2 separate regions of the Homo sapiens genome follow, and region 1 is linked to region 2. The links come from fine-mapping of genetic effects on gene expression. Tissue or cell type: whole blood. Region 2 holds a variant in brackets; the other region holds the start of a gene. All regions are shown on one strand. Distances are from middle to middle.

Region 1 (8,092 bases), 51 kb before region 2:
CCTTACGCTTGTTTTCCCCTCAACTCAGTACTCTGTAATTCAAGAGGTCCTTTCAATGATTCCCAGCAGAATCAAGTATATGAAGTGTTCAGCTTATGAGATACTGCAGAAATCTTTTTATGGGATTATGCGGAGCTTGAGTGTACCCTTTTGTTAGAGCAACCATCTCATCGTGAAGTCACTGCATCAGAGCTCCTGAGTATCTGCTGTAGTAGCACTGGTCTTAGCTGTTACGTTCCTAAGGCAGCTTAGTTTCAACTTTAAAAATCAGCCAATATCCAGTTTCCTAACCTTTTAATCTCCACATATCCTGCCTTTTAATTTGTTCCTAAATGCAAGCAGTGGATTATGGCTAGTGAAGAAGCATGGATTTGGCTACAAAGCCCATCCTTCCTTGCTAAACGAACACGCACAGCAGAAGCCAGAAAAGCAGACACTGGCGGTGGCAAACATGGTCAAGCTTTCTAACACACACATTAAACAAAAAAAAAAGAATGCTGCCTCAAGGCACATATGTGTTATTTGTAAAATCTAACAAAGGGCCTTTACATGAGTTTTTGTTTTTTTAGACGGGCTGGAGTGCAATGGTGCAATCTTGGCTTACTGCAACCTCCGCCTCCCGGTTTCAAGGGATTCTCCTGCCTCAGCCCCCCGAGTAGCTGGGATTACAGGTGCGCACCACCACGCCGGACTAATTTTTTGTACTTTTAGTAGAGACGGGGCTTCACCATGTTGGCCAGGCTGGTCTCAAACTCCTGAACTCAGATGATCCACCTGCCTCGGCCTCCCAAAGTGCTGGGATTACAGGCGTGAGCCACCGCACCCGGCCTACATGAGTTTTTACAGAAGTTTTCTTGTTTTGAGACGGGGTCTCACTCTGCCACCCAGGCTAGAGTGCAGTGGAGTGATCGTGGCTCACTGCAACCTCGAACTTCTGGGTTTAAGTGCTCTTCCTCCTCCCCTGCCTCAGCCTCTTCACAGCTGGGACTACAGGTGCGTGCCACCACGCCCGGCTCATTTATTTTTTTGTAGGACAGGGTCTCGAACTCCTGGGCTCAAGTAATCGGCCTGCCTCAGCCTCCCAAAGTGCTGGGATTATAGCCACCCAGCCCATTTGAAATGTTAACAATGACAAATACTTGCTTTGGTCAAACTACTATAGAATTCTGTATCATCTTGTTGGGTAATCAGAGTTAATTCCACTAACCAACATATTCAAAGTGAAGGACATAGCAGTAAAATTCCTTAAATACCTGTTTGTTTGTTTTATTTTAAGTTGTCACAAGCTTTCACCTACTGCTAAGAAATAAACTTAAGGCATTTATTGCAACTGACTAATGAATGTATGTTAGTGGCTTAAAGAGGAGCCCCAGAAAAATTAGTTGAGAATTCACAGTTGGAGAACCAAATCCTTAACATACATCTGGGAATAGAGTACAAAAATAAACTTACTTATCAATTGCTTTGAACAGACCACTCTAAACCAGTTCCAACACTGACCAAAAGGACTGGTTACCTTCTATCTTTTGAGGGATCTATGGCAAAGCTACGCATGTGCAGAACTGCAAAATCAGTCTGCATACATGCCATTTCCTGACACGGCCCGAGAACCCATACTCCAATGGTCTCACACCAGGTAAACAAGTTTGCCATATCCAGCAGGTGAACTCTGAGCGAGTTAGCAGACCTTACAATTTTCTGTTTTTTTTGTTTGTTTTAAGTCAGCCTTAGTTTTCTTTTTACTGTTTAGAGATGGGGGTCTCTGTTACCCAGGCTGGATGGTATGCAGTATCGTGATATAGCTCACCGCAGCCTCAACTTCCTTGAGCTTAAGCGATCCTCCCACCTTACCCTTCCAAGTAGGTAGGGTTACAGGTGTGTGCCACCACACTCGGCTAATTTTTTTTTTTTCTTATGGAGACGAGGGTCTTACTATCTTGCCCAAGCTGGTGTGAAACTCCTGGGCTCAAGCTATCCTCCCACCTCAGCCTCCCAAAGTGTTCGGATTACAGGCATGAGCCACCGCGCCCGGTCTCACTCTAAACAGTTTTTTTAATCTTGACAAGTTTTAAACTGGACCTCCACATTTAGGGACTTCAAATATTTCCCTCTCTGCCACAACATCCCCACTGTCGCTGAAAACACCTTCCTATTACTGCTAATGTGACTGAAATACAAAAGAGAGCAGAGATTAGTACAAACTTCGAAATAAAATGAAGAACACCGGGACTCTAGCCTCTGCCAACTCCTAACATCCTACCTGCTCAGTTTATTCCTTCTTTAAATATGAACAATTTCACCCTGGTAGACAAGTCAGTGACTGGCACAGTGAAAACAGAGGTAAAAACTTCACCTAGTACTTGGCACATGGTAAGCCCTCAATTAAAGGTAGCTATTATCAACATGGTCATAATATTGACAGACTTGATTACAGAAATAAAACCTTCCCTGTTAAAGGACAATCCTATAGTCCAACACACAACAATAGACATTATGTGTATTTGGCGCAAAATAGACGCCAGATATCCTAAGACCTTAGTTCATTTGTTTTGTTTTTAATTAGTTTTTTAAGTTTATTTAATTATATTACCTCCACCTACCTTTACAAGTAAGTAAACTCGGGGCACTCACTCAAGGTCTGGCAAACTGGGACCCAAAAAGACTGAATTCATAGTCTGCGCTCTTAACCCCACAATGAATAGCCACTGAAGGATGACTTCCTCTTCGACAGAGGAATGGATCTGGGACCAGGTTATTAAATAAGAGATCTGAGTTTGAAAGGTCCTTGGGCCCTCACCCACCCATCTAAACTTGAACACTATCCAATGTTAATTCAACATTAAAGGGTAGAACAACTTAGTGGTTTTAGGAGCGTGGACTGATGAGTCACACAAACCAAGTCTTAAGGCCTGCTGTGAGCCAAATACTAGCTGGGTGACCTTACCCTTTCTCATCATATGCAAAATGGCGATAAGAACAGCACCTGCTTAATCGAGCAGTTTTGAGTATTAATGTAAATGATCCACGTAAACCACGCAGCACAGCGCTCATTAATGTAACTGCAAATGAGAGCCATGGAAAAGGGCAGGTAGGAGCTATAAAAGAAAGTGGAGCCTGTCCCCGAGTAACCCAGCCGATGAGAGCAACGACTCTCCCCAGCAGCAGGGGCAGTCGCCCCCGCCCACTGCCGCAGGCCCGTCCTTACCGCTCTTGGGTTTAGACTCGCCGGCTGGCCCCGCCGAGGCGGAGCGGGGCGGCTGTTGCCCTTTGCTGCTGCCCGAAGAGGCGGAGGAGCTGTTGGAGCCGCTGTTCTTGTCCATGTCGGAGGCGGTGGCGGCGGCGTTGGGGGAGCTCAGCGGCATCAACGGGGGCCTCGGCGGCGACGGCAGTCGGAGCGGAGCGGGCGCGGCGGGGACCCAGGCTCATGGCGTTCAGGGCCGGCGGGGGTCGGCGGCGGCAGCGGTTCTCGGCCTTCATGGCGACATTTTTCCCTGTTTCCTTCCTTGGCTTCTCAAACTAGGAAGAGAAGCGGCGGACGGGGCTGTTAAGCCCGGCGGCAGCGGCGACCGAGGACGAGGAGGCCGGGGCTCGGGAGTCCGGGCCGGGCCTGGCGGGGCGGAGGCTGCGGGGGAAGGGGAGGCGAGGGAGGTTGCGCGAGCCCCGCCGGCCGGCCGGCCGGACACGCTCTCCCGCCGCGAGGCAGGGGAGAGGGCTGGCTGTCTCGGTGTCGGGGACTAGTGTCTCCGACACAGCAACGGATACTCGCCCCTGGGCCGAGGCCGACCTGCTCCGGGAATGGCGACGAGTCGCCAAACAGCATCTCAAAGAACCCGGATGGACTGTATATATAGTGGAGAGGGGGTGAGGTATTCTGGGAAATGTAGTTTTTGCCTACATCCGGGTCTCGTGGTTTGTTTTTTGGTTTTTGTTTGTTTGTTTGTTTTGGTTTTGTTTTTTTTATTTCCTCCCCCACCTCCGCCCCAACCCCACTGTGAGGGCATTCAAAATAATGGGACTTGCAGTTGCTCCAAGTCCAGGTTTTTCACTTAGTACACTAAAAATACAGTAACAATAATAATATACACTGATAATAATGTAGCCAAACATTGGAATACCTGTGGAACTCCTTTATAGACTCGTTTGATTTATGGTTCTTTTTTTTTTTTTTTGAGGCGGAGTCGCTCTGTCGCCCAGGCTAGAGTGCAGTGGCGCGATCTGGGCTGACTGCAAGCTCCGCCTCCCGGGTTCACGCCATTCTCCTGCCTCAGCCTCCCGAGTAGCTGGGACCACAGGCGCCCGCCACCACGCCCGGCTAATTTTCTGTATTTTTAGTAGAGACACGGTTTCACCGTGTTAGCCAGGATGGTCTTGATCTCCTGACCTCGTGATCTGCCCACCTCGGCCTCCCAAAGTGCTGGGATTACAGACGTGAGCCACCGCGCCCGGCCAATTTATGGTTCTTATTCTAGCGTTAATACCAATTGATTTATGGCCTTTAGTCTATCTCATATTAGGAATAATAATAATAACGTTAATAATGACAATACCTTACATTTAATATCACTTTACGGCACTTCTTCATACAGTACATCACTTTATTTCTTTAGCCTGGCGTGGCGGTGCGCACCTGTGGTCCCCATTACCCAGGAGACAGAGGCGGAAACAGGCCATAAGCAGTGTTTCATGCGTGTAATCCCAACACTTTGGGAGGCAGAGGTGGAAGGATCCTTGGAGGCCAGGAGTTCCAGACCAGCCTGGGGAATATAGCGAGACCCCTGTCTCTAAAGAATAAAAATATTTTTTAAAAAATTAGTTGGGCAGCCGGGCGTGGTGGCTCACACCTGTAATTCCAGCCCTTTGGGAGTCTGAGGAGGGGGCAGATCACTTGAGGCCAGGAGTTCAAGACCAGCCTGGCCAACATAGCAAAATCCCGACCCTATTAAAAATACAAAAATTAGCTGGGCTCTGAATAAAATAGTTTGAATAAAACTAACTTTAATTTAAAAGAGAGAAAGAAAAAAAAATTAGCCAAGCATAGTGGCTGTGGCTGCACACCTGTAGTTCTAGCTACTCAGGAAACTGAGGTGGGAGGATCACCTGAGCCCAGCAGTTGGAGGTTGCAGTGAGATACGATCGTGCCAGTGCACTCCAGTATGAGTGACAGAGAGGGAGACCCTGTCTAAACTTTTTTTTAAAAAGTAGAAACAGAGAACAAAAAGCAGATTAGTCATTTCAAAATTACTTTTCTTGTAAAGGTTTAAGCAGAATGGACTTCCTTATGTGGGGTAAAACTGACCAGTTTGGGGATTTGATGATTTCTCAGAAGGTCAGATAAACAATTTCGTTTAGGCGTGGTTGGGTAGAAATTCACCTTGAGTAACTCTGTTTTGGTTTGGTCTACTGTGCTGAAGCTCAGTGCAAAACAATGGGCTCCTATAAATTGTATTTAACAGCTGTTAACATTATCACATTTAATCTTCTCAATAACTAAATTTTAGACTAAGTGTGCCTGTAGTCCCAGCTACTCAGGAGGCTGAGGAGGGATGATCACTTGAGCCCAAGAGTATGAATCCAGCCTGGGTAACACAACAAGACTCTGTCCCTAAATAAATAAAATTTAAAGATGAGTAAATGGACTCCAAAAGTCCAGATAATTTGCCTATTATCACATAGCTAACAAGTGATGTTCTTACCTATGAGACAAGCAGTTCCTCATTTTACAGATACAGACTGAGATTTAGAAAATCATGCATATGGGGCCGGGCACGGTGGCTCACACCTGTAACCCCAGCACTTTGGGAGGCCAAGCCGGGTGGATCAACAGGTCAGGAGATCGAGACCAGCCTGACCAACATAGTGAAACCCCGTCTCTACTAAAAATACAAAAAAATTAGCCAGGCGTGGTGGTGCGCACCTGTAATCTCAGCTACTGAGGAGGCTGAGGCAGGAGAATCACTTGAACCCAGAAGGCACAGGTTGCAGTGAGCCAAGACTGCACCACTGTATTCCAGCCTGGGCAACAGAGCGAGACTCCATCTCAAAAAAAAAAAGAAGAAAGAAAATAATGTATGTGGGTCAGGTGCAATGTAATCCCAGCACTTTTTGGGAGGCCTGTAATCCCAGCACTTTTTGGGAGGCCTGTAATCCCAGCACTTTTTGGGAGTTCGAGGCGGGCAGATCACGAGGTCAGGATTTCGAGACCAGCCTGACCAATACAGTGAAACCCCGTCTCTCCTAAAAATACAACAATTAGCCGGGCGTGGTGGCGCACACCTGTAGTCCCAGCTACTTGGGAGGTTGAGGGAGGACAATCGCTTGAACCTGGGAGGCGGAGGTTGCAGTGAGCTGAGATTGGGCCACTGCACTCCAGCCTGGGTGACAGAGCGAGACTCTGTCTCAAAAAAAAAAAAAAAGAAAAAAAAAGGAAAATCATGTATGTGGCCAGGCAAGGTAGCTCAATCCCAACATTCTGGGAGGCTGAGGCAGGAAGATCACTTGATGTTAGGAGTTTGAGACCAGCCTGAACATAGTGAAACCAATTCTCTACTAAAAATTAAAAAACAAAAAACAAAAACATATGGTTTACAGATATAGACGCTAAGACTTTGGGAATCATACCACACCTATTTGTACTTTGGAAAATTACAAATGATTCCCTTCCAACCATAGTAGTTTGAGATTCAAAAGATCACATAGACATGCTATTAAGGAAATGACCAGGGCCAGGTGCGGTTGCTCACGCCTATAATCCCAGCACTTTGGGAGATTGAGGTAGGCAGATTGCCCAAGCCCAGGAGTTCAAGACCATTCAGGGCAACATGGCAAAACCCTGTCTCAACAAAAAATGCAAAAATCAGCCCAGTGTGGTGGTGCACACCTGTAGTCCCAGCTACTCAGGAGGTTGAGGTGGGAGGATGGCTTGAGCCTGGGAGGGTGAGAAGTGAGCTATGATTGTGCCACTGCACTCCACCCTGGGTGACAAAGTGAGATCCTATTTCAAAATAAAGAATGAATCAATAAATAAGTAAATAAGACCAGCCTAGCCAAAATGGTGAAACCCCATCTCTACTAAAAATACAAAAATTAGCGCCGGGAGTGGTGGCTCAGCACTTTGGGAGGCTGAGGCAGGTGGATTACCTGAAGTCAGGAGTTCAAGACCAGCCTGGCCAATATAGCGAAACCCCATCTCTACTAAAAATACAAAAATTAGCCTGGCATGGTGGCGCATGCCTGTAATCCCAGCTACTAGGGAAGCTGAGGCAGGAGGATCACTTGAACCCAGAAGACAGAGGTTGCAGTGAGCCGAAGTCATGCCACTGCACTCCAGTCTGGGCAACAGAGCAAGACGCTACCTCAAAAAAAAAATACCTTCCAACAGTCCTTGTCCTACTTCACTTTTTACAGGTTTTCCTCCACATATCATATGAAATAAGAGAACAGTGAAATACTGTTGGTCTGGATACTTAATCTGATGTGCAGAAGGAACAGCCCTAAATCCTGAGATCCATTCTTTTATATAACTAGATATGGAAGATATAAGATTCTTTGATGAGACTTTATTTATTTATTTATTTATTTATTTATTTATTTTTGAGATGGAGTCTGGCTCTGTCACCCAGGCTTGAGTGCAGTGGTGCAATCTCAGCTCACTGCAACCAGTGACTCCTGGGTTGAAGGGATTCTCCTGCTTCAACCTCCTGAATAGCTGGGACTACAGGTGTGCACCACCATGCCTGGCTGATTTTTGTATTTTAGTAGAGACGGGGTTTCACCATGTTAGCCATGCTGGTCTCGAACTCCTGACCTCATGCAATCCGCCCACCTCGGGCTCCCAAAGTGTTGGGATTACAGGCGTGAGCCACCGCACCCAGCCACTTAATTTCTTTTAACAAAGACATGAGAATTATGAATACATGGATGAATCATTTCGCCCTTGTATCCTTCCTTTTTTTTTTCTCATCACTATACCAACGAGGACCTTCTATCATTCTTAAAATAAAAGAGAAAGAAACAGAAATCCCAGCGCAGTACTTCCCAAACGAAAGCGGTTAGGTGTCCATCTGTCAGGCTATATTAAACCAGGAAGAGAATT
Region 2 (8,103 bases):
CCTAGCGCTTTGGGAGGCTAAGGCAGGAGGATGCCTTACCCAGGAGATGGAGACCAGCCTGGGCAATATAGCAAGACCCCATCTCTACCAAAAATAAAAATAAAAAATTAGCTAGTATAGTGGGGTGTGCCGGTAGTTCCAGCTACTCAGGAGGCTACAGCGGGGAGGATTGCTTGAGCCCAAGAGTTCAAGGCTGCAGTGAGCTATGATTGCACCACTGCACTCCAGCCTGGGCAACAGAGCGAGACCCTGACTCAAAAACAAAAACAGAAACATCTGTTTGCAAAGCCCTGGTTCTCTCAGGGGACAGAGAGGGGAATGCAAAGAAGTTGTTTTTCTCTCTCGGTAAGAGCAGAACCCTTGGTACCCCCAAACTTATCATCTTAGGATCACAAAGCCAGAGCTTAAGGCTGTACATAATAATCTGTTTCTTCCAGGAGCCACTTCCCCCAAGAAACTCCAAAGGTATTATTTCATTAGCAGGGTGCCAGGTGGTTTTGGCCAGGGCCTCTGCAACTCTTTTCTCTGTGACCATTTTCCATTTCGGCTCATATAAATCAACCTTTACTACAAAGCTATAAAGTAAAATAATGTAATGAGTGCAGCCAACTGCAGCTGTTCTCAAACTCAATGTCACAGCCATTACACATGTGAAATATTTACAGGGGTTTTAATCAATTTTCTTTCCTGACACCCGTTTTTTATTAAAAATTACAAAAATAATAAATGCACATGGTAGTAGATACAGAAGAACACAAGGAATGAATTATAAATGTTAACTGTACAGAGATAACCATTGTCAATATTTTGTCTTAAATACATCCAGTCTACAGATAAGAACATATTCATATCATATAATACCTATCACACTGTATGTATCTTTTTTTTTTTTTTTTTTTTTTTAGACAGGGACTTACTCTGTCAAATAGGCTAGGGTGTAGTGGTGCGATCGTACCTCACTACAGCCTCAAACTCCCAGGCTCAAGGGATCCGACTGCCCCTCCCTCCCAAGTAGCTGGGATCACAGGTGCACACCACCACACCTGGCTAATTTTTTTGATTTTTAATAAAAATGAGGTATCACTATGTTGCCCAGGCTGGTCTCAAACTCCTGGGCTCAAGCAATCCTCCCACCTTGGCCTCCAAAAGTGCTGGTATTATAGGCATGAGCCACTGAACCTGGCCAATGTATCATTTTTGTTACCTGCTTTTCGTAATCCCAGCACTTTGGGAGGCCGAGGCAGGTGGATCACGAGGTCGGGAGTTCAAGACCAGCCTGGCCAAGATGTTAAAACCCTGTCTCTACTAAAAATACAAAAATTGGCTGGGTGTGGTGGTGGGCGCCTGTAATCTCAGCTACTTGGGAGGGTGAGGCAGAGAATTGCTTGAACCTAGGAGGTGGAGGTTGCAGTGAGCCGAGATCGTGCCACTGCACTCCAGCCTGGGCGACAGAGCAAGACTCCATCTCAAAAAAAAAAAAAAAAAAAAAAAGCCTTCTACAACATAACTATTTACTTATGTATTTTTAAAGATGGGGTCCCACTCTCACCCAGGCTGGAGTACAGTGGTGCAATCCTAGCTCACTGCAGCCTCAAACTCCTGGGCTCAAGCAGGCATCCTGCCTTCACCTCCCAAAGTGCTGGGATTACAAGCATGAGCTACTGCACCCAGCCCAATTTTAATAGCTTCTTTATAGCCCATGCGGCCAGGGGCGGTGGCTCACGCCTGTAATCCCAGCACTTTGGGAGGCCCAGGTGGTTGGATCACTTGCGGTCAGAAGTTCGAGACCAGCCTGGCCAATATGGTGAAACCCCATCTCTACTAAAAATATAAAAAATTAGCCAGGTGTAGTGTTGCGTGCCTGTAGGCTACTTAGGAGGCTGAGGCAGGAGAATCGCTTGAACCCAGGAAGCAAAGCGGAGGTTGCAGTGATCCGAGATTGCGCTATTGCACTCCAGCCTGGGTGTCACAGTGAGACTCCGTCTCAAAAAAAAAAAAAAAAGTCCATGCATAACTTCTTGAAACAATCACTTATCAGTGGACACTTAAGTTGCTTCCAGTTTTTCAGTATTGTAACAGTGCTTTGTTCTGATGAATATCTTTCAAAGATAAAAATAATCTTTTTAATTCTACTTTCAGAAGTAATAGGTACTCATTGTATAAAAGTGAAACACTGTAGAAATTTAGAATCTGAAAAAGAAAGTTCCTTTGTAAGATCTGTAATCTTACAACTCAAAGATAATGTTAAAATTTGATTTTTTCCCGGCATATAACAGGCTTTTTTCCTTTTTACCAAAATGGGATGATTCTGAGTTCCCTGTCACGATATATAAATCTACTTTATTCCTTTCATAAACTTCCATGCATTTCCACCACCTGTCCCCACCCACCCACCCACATCTGTATACACACATTCTGCCTCCCTTGCCGTTACCCTGTATGAACTGTTCATGCTCCTATCTAAGGCCATCTCCCTGGCACTGGGTCCATCTCCTCTCATTCCTGTGATTGTCTCTTCTCCCTCTCCTGCATCATCAGTTTCCCCTGTCTACTGGATTATTCCCACCAGCGTGCAAACATGCTGTCATATTCTTTTAAAAATGCTTCCCTTGCCTACACATTCTCCTGTAGCTACCATCCCATCTCGGCTTTCCTCCAAGAGTTGTCTGTACTCCCTGTCCCCGATTCCTCACCTCCCATTCTCTCTTTAATCCACTGCACCCACACAGCTCAAATGTGGTGGTCACCGGTGACCACCATGCTGCTAAACACAGTGGCCAATTCTCAGTGCCCTTCATGGCCATACATGTCACAGTTGCTCTCTTCCTCTGGGTCCTCCCTTGGCTTCCAGGACCACACACTCTCTTAGCTGTCCTCCCATCTCACTGGCTGCTCCACCTCAGGCTCCTCTGTTTGTTTCCCCTTTTCTCCATGACATCTGAAGGAAGAAGTGAACCAGGCCTTCTCTATTGGGCTACTTCTCTATTTAAACTCTCTCTTGGGAGTCTCCATTTTCATGGCTTTAAATTTCATGGCTCACAACTCTCAAATTTGTATTTTCACCCCAAACTTTGCCCCTGAATGCCCATCCCATATCTCTAAGTCCTATTTGAAATAGCTCTAGGATGTCTAACAGGCATCTGTCTCAAACCTAACACATCCACAACAGACCTATTCTACTCCCAAACCTGCCTGCTTATCCTGCAGGCTTCCTTATCACTGTAAATAGCCACTGCATTCTTCCAGGTGCTCAGGAGAGAGATCTAGAAGTTTTCCTTGACTTGTGTATATTCCTCACACCTCACATCTAATTTAAGCACATTAATGAGCTTAAATTCTTTAAGCTCAATCTTGAAAATATATCTCACCACCTTCGCTCTTCTTCTGACCTTTTTTTTTTTTTTTGATACAGAGCTTCTCTCTGTCATCCAGGCTAGAGTACAGTAGCACAATCTCAGCTCACTGCAGCCTCCACCTCCCAAGTTCAAGCAATTCTCCTGCCTCAGCCTCCCTTGTAGCTGGGGTTACAGGTGTGCACCACCACACCCAGATAATTTTTGTATTTTTAGTAGAGACGGGGTTTCACCACATTGGTCAGGCTGGTCTCAAACTCCTGACCTTGTGATCCACCCGCCTCAGACTCCCAAAGTGCTGGGATTACAGGTGTAAGCCACCGTGCCTGGCCTTTTTTTTTCTTTAAGAGATGAGGTCTTGCTCTGTTTTCCAGGCTGGATCCTGGGCTTGAGGGATCCTCCTGCGTCAGCCTCTCGAGTAGCTGGGACCACAGGCACGAGCCACCGATGCCTGGCTAAATTTTTACTTTTTTGTAGAGATGGAGGTCTCGCCATCTTGCCCAGGCTGGTCTCGAACTCATGGACTCAAGCAATCCTCCTGCCTCAGCCTCCCAAAGCCCATGTCTGGCCTGGGCTGTCTATTCTGTCTCACTGCTCTATGTGTTTATCTTTTTGCTGATACCACCCTACTTTGAATACTGTAACTTTATAGTGAGTCTTGAAGTTGGGTAATGTGAGTATGTGAGTCCTCTGACTATTTTTTTTTTCAGAATTGTTTTGGCTAATCTAGTACCTTTGCCTTTCTCTGTAAAAAAATTGTTTTGGCTAGGCCGGGCATGGTGGCTCACGCCTGTAATCCCAGCACTTTGGGAGGCCGAGGCAGGCGGATCACAAGGTCAGGAGATTGAAACCATCTTGGCTAACACTGTGAAACCCCATCTCCACTAAAAATACAAAAAATTAGCCGGGCACGGTGGCAGGCGCCTGTAGTCCCAGCTACCTGAGAGGCTGAGGCAGGAGAATGGCGTGAACCCGGGAGGTGGAGCTTGCAGCGAGCCGAGATGGCGCCACTGCACTACAGCCTGGGCGATAGAGCGCGACTCCATCTCAAAAAAAAAAAAA[AT/T]TGTTTTGGCAAATCTAGTACCTTTGCCTTTCTATGTTGCCCGGGCTGGAGTGCATTGGCTACTCACAGGCATGATCATGGTGTATTATAGCCTCAAACTCCTGGCCTCCAGCGATCTTCCTGTCTCAGCTCCCAAGTAGCTCCCAAGTGTGCAACTGAGACTACAGGTGCAAAACACAGTGCCCTGGCTTCTCTGTAAATTTTAGAATCAGTTTGTAGACAGTGTCTGGGAGGAAAAACTTTTTATCTACCCTCAGGTTTAGTCTTTGGGGACCTGTGAATTAAACAGACGAAAGATATATTAACAAGAGAAGGCCAAGCGTGGTGGCTTACACCCATAATCCCAACACTCTGGGAGGCTGAGGCGGGAGGATCACTTGAGTCCAGGAGGTCGAGGCTGCCGTGGGCTAGCATCATGCCACTGCACTGCCCCATGGGCAACAGAGCGAGACCCCTGTCTCTAAAACAAACAAAAAGAAGACAAAATTTAATCATTTATTTTATTAACATACATATGGGAGTTCACCAGAAAGACTATCCACATTACTAGAGATGGAAACTTTCAGCTCCTTCCCCCAACCTCCAGGGAGGGGAGTGGGGCTAGAGACTGGGCTCCAAACACTCTTGAACAGGAGGTTCCGAAAGTCTGGAATGATGAACGCATTGATGTGCTGGGAGGGTGGTGCACCTGGAGAGGACATGGAAGCTCTGTTCCCACCTCCTCCTGCTGTGCCCCGCCCCATGCCTTGCCCTATGCATCGCTTCCATTTGGTTGATCCTAGTTGTATCCTTTATAATAAACTGGAAAATGTAAATAAGGTGCTGTCCTGAGTTCTGTGAGTCACTCTAGTAAATTATTGAACCTGAAGGGGGTGAGTGGGAACCTCTGAATTTGTAGTAGGCCCAACAAAAATGTGGGTAGCTGGGGCACCTCATTTGTGCAGGCATCTAAAGTGGGGGCGGTCTTGTGGGACTCAGTCCTTAACTTTTGTTCAGGGTCTGTGCTAACTCTGGGTAGTTAGTGTCAGAACTGAATAGAATTTTCAGAGGTCCAGTTGATCTCAGATAATTGAACAATTGATGTGGAAAAATGACACGTATCTGGTGCCAGAGATAAAGACCGCACCACACATTTGGTGTCAGAAATAGTGTCAAAGATAAGACATCACAGGAAGTCACTGGTATTAGCACAGTGTTATACATACAGACTTCAATAAATATAAGAATCATAAACTACAAATAGGAAAAAAGAAATTAAGAAATATGTGAGCCGGGCATGGTGGCTCACGCCTGTAATCCCAGCACTTTGGGAGGCCAAGGTGGGCAGATCACGAGGTCAGGAGATCGAGACCATCCTGGCGAACATGGTGAAACCCCATGTCTACTAAAAATGCAAAAAATTAGCTGGGCATGGTGGCGGGCGCCTGTAGTCCCAGCTACTCGGGAGGCTGAGGCAGGAGAATGACGTGAACCCGGGAGGCGGAGCTTGCAGTGAGCCAAGATGGAGCCACGACTCCAGCCTGGGCAACAGAGCGAGACTCCGTCTCAAAAAAAAAAAAAAAGAAAAATGCTTTGAGGTGGAACAAAAGGCATAATGGGAGACAACAAGGCCTTTCAGAGGTATAAACTCAAAGGAAAGTTCTAGATTGGGTCACACAGGCCTGGGCCCCTTACTAAGTCAAGGACCTGAAGGCTGAGGAGGCCTTGGCCAGGCAAAGACTCGGGAGGCAGAGGTAGAGGGAGCAAAACAGTGTCCAGGGAGAGGAGCCAGCCCATGCAAAGACCTGGAGGAAGGAAAGGGACACAGGCTTCCAGACAGCAGATCCCAGAGAAGCTGCCAGGAGTAGCAGGAGTGGAGGAGAAGCTGCTTCAGGCACATCCTGAAGGCCAAGGTGAGGGTGTGGAGATGGTGTTGTCTCTAGGGAGGCAGACACTTTGTCCCCTCTGCTGTGTCCCTAGCATCTAGCACAGTACACACTGTAGATGTCAGTATCTTGGAGATCTTTTCATATCCACACATATGAATGTGGTATTTTTAATGTTTGCATAGTATTCAGAACTAGAACTGTACATTTCCTGCTTAACCAGCCCCCTCTGGATGCAGATTGAGGTCCCCTCTAATTTTGGGGGAACCATAGGTTTTAATAAACATCCTCACATTTTGAATTCCGCTCCCCCTGAGCCCCATCTTCCTCACACAAGGAGGGATGATTGGATTTTTGCTTTGTCCCCTTCTGCTGTCCTTCTGTCTTCCAAACAAGCATCCTTTTGCTATTCACAGCTCTCCTTTGGACACTGTGAGACCATACTCCCCTCAAGGCCCCTTCCCCCAGACTGATCATGCCACCCCTTTACAATCATCCTATTCAGGGATATACAATAAACATTTGTATGGTAAAGGCAACTCATACTGATTGCCAGTGAACATCTGAAATACTTAGGACTGACATGTGTAATCTAACCCAGCCAGGCTCTGATTTACATTAGGGCATCTCACTGTAAGTAGCTTGTGGCACTAGTGCAAGGAAGAACAGCCCTCACCTCCACCCCATGCTCTAACTGTGCTGAACTATTTAGCTTCCCGAAAGCCCCAAGCTTGCCTCTGTCCTCCCAGCTTTCTTTGCAGTGCTTTCTTTCTGTCTGGAATGCTTTTCTTCTCCTCTCATTTACCTGCCTAGCACCATCTGGTTCTTCAGGTCTCAGTTTAGAAGAGCCACTCCCTCCAGGAAGTCTTCCCTGAACACTCCCCTCCAGCCTGGGTTAAGAGCTGCAGGAGTGCCCTGAATTTCTTGTAGCACATATCTCATTTTGTTATAATTGCCTTTTTAAATTTTATTATTATTATTATTATTATTATTTTTTTTTTTTTTTTTTTTTGGAGACGGAGTTTCACTCTTGATGCCCAGGCTGGATGGTGTGATCTCAGCTGACCACAACCTCCGCCTCCCGGGTTCAAGTGATTCCTCTGCCTCAGCCTCCTGAGTAGCTGGGATTACAGGCATGTGCCACCATGCCCGTCTAATTTTTTGTATTTTTAGTAGAGACGGGGTTTCTCCATGTTGGTCTCGAACTCCTGACCTCAGATGATCTGCCCGCCTCAGCCTCCCAAAGTGCTGGGATTACAGGCGTGAGCCACCGCGCCTGGCCTATTACTATTATTTTTTACACGGAGACTTGCTCTGTCACCCAGGTTGCTGTGCAGTGGTGTGTTCTCGACTCGCTGCAACCTCTGCTTCCCGGGTTCAAGCGATTCTCCTGCCTCAGCCTCCCGAGTAGCTGGGATTACAGGCACCTGCCACCATGCCCAGCTAATTTTTGTATTTTTAATAGAGACAGTTTCACAGCCTGGTGCGGTGGCTCACGCCTGTAATCCCAGCACTTTGGGAGGCCGAGGCAGGTGGATCACCTGAGGTCAGGAGTTCAAGACCAGCCTGGCCAACATGGCAAAACCCTGTCTTTACTAAAAATACAAAAATTAGCTGGGCGTGGTGGCGGGCGCCTGTAATCCCATCTACTCGGGAGGCTGGGACAGGAGAATTGCTTGAACCCAGGAGGTGGAGGTTGCAGTGAGCAAGATTGTGCCATTGCACTCCAGCCTGGGTGACAGATTGAGACTCCATCTCATAAAAAAGAAAAGAAAACAGACGTGGTTTCACCATGTTGGCCAGGCTGGTCTCGAACTCCTGA

What was found. PIP is the estimated chance that this variant, and not a neighbour inherited with it, causes the effect.
Region 1: it holds the start of RNF10, and the variant in region 2 is fine-mapped to the expression of RNF10 in whole blood (INTERVAL, PIP 0.93).

Annotation. Positions count from the first base shown.
Region 1 is chr12:120,530,082-120,538,173 of GRCh38, reverse strand. RNF10 (ring finger protein 10) reads right to left here and starts at 3,818. Exons shown (of 17, transcript NM_014868.5): 1 at 3,206-3,818. The coding sequence starts at 3,362. It overlaps LOC128071547, which reads right to left and starts at 3,477. Exons shown (of 1, transcript NM_001414895.1): 1 at 3,217-3,477. The coding sequence starts at 3,477. The coding sequence ends at 3,217. RefSeq lists silencers at 3,599-3,668, 3,767-3,920.
Region 2 is chr12:120,478,640-120,486,742 of GRCh38, reverse strand. It overlaps a transcript of DYNLL1 not described here. Among named protein-coding and RNA genes, the nearest start is that of SRSF9, 13 kb to the right of the region's middle. The variant AT/T (reference allele first, on the strand shown) is at 4,416.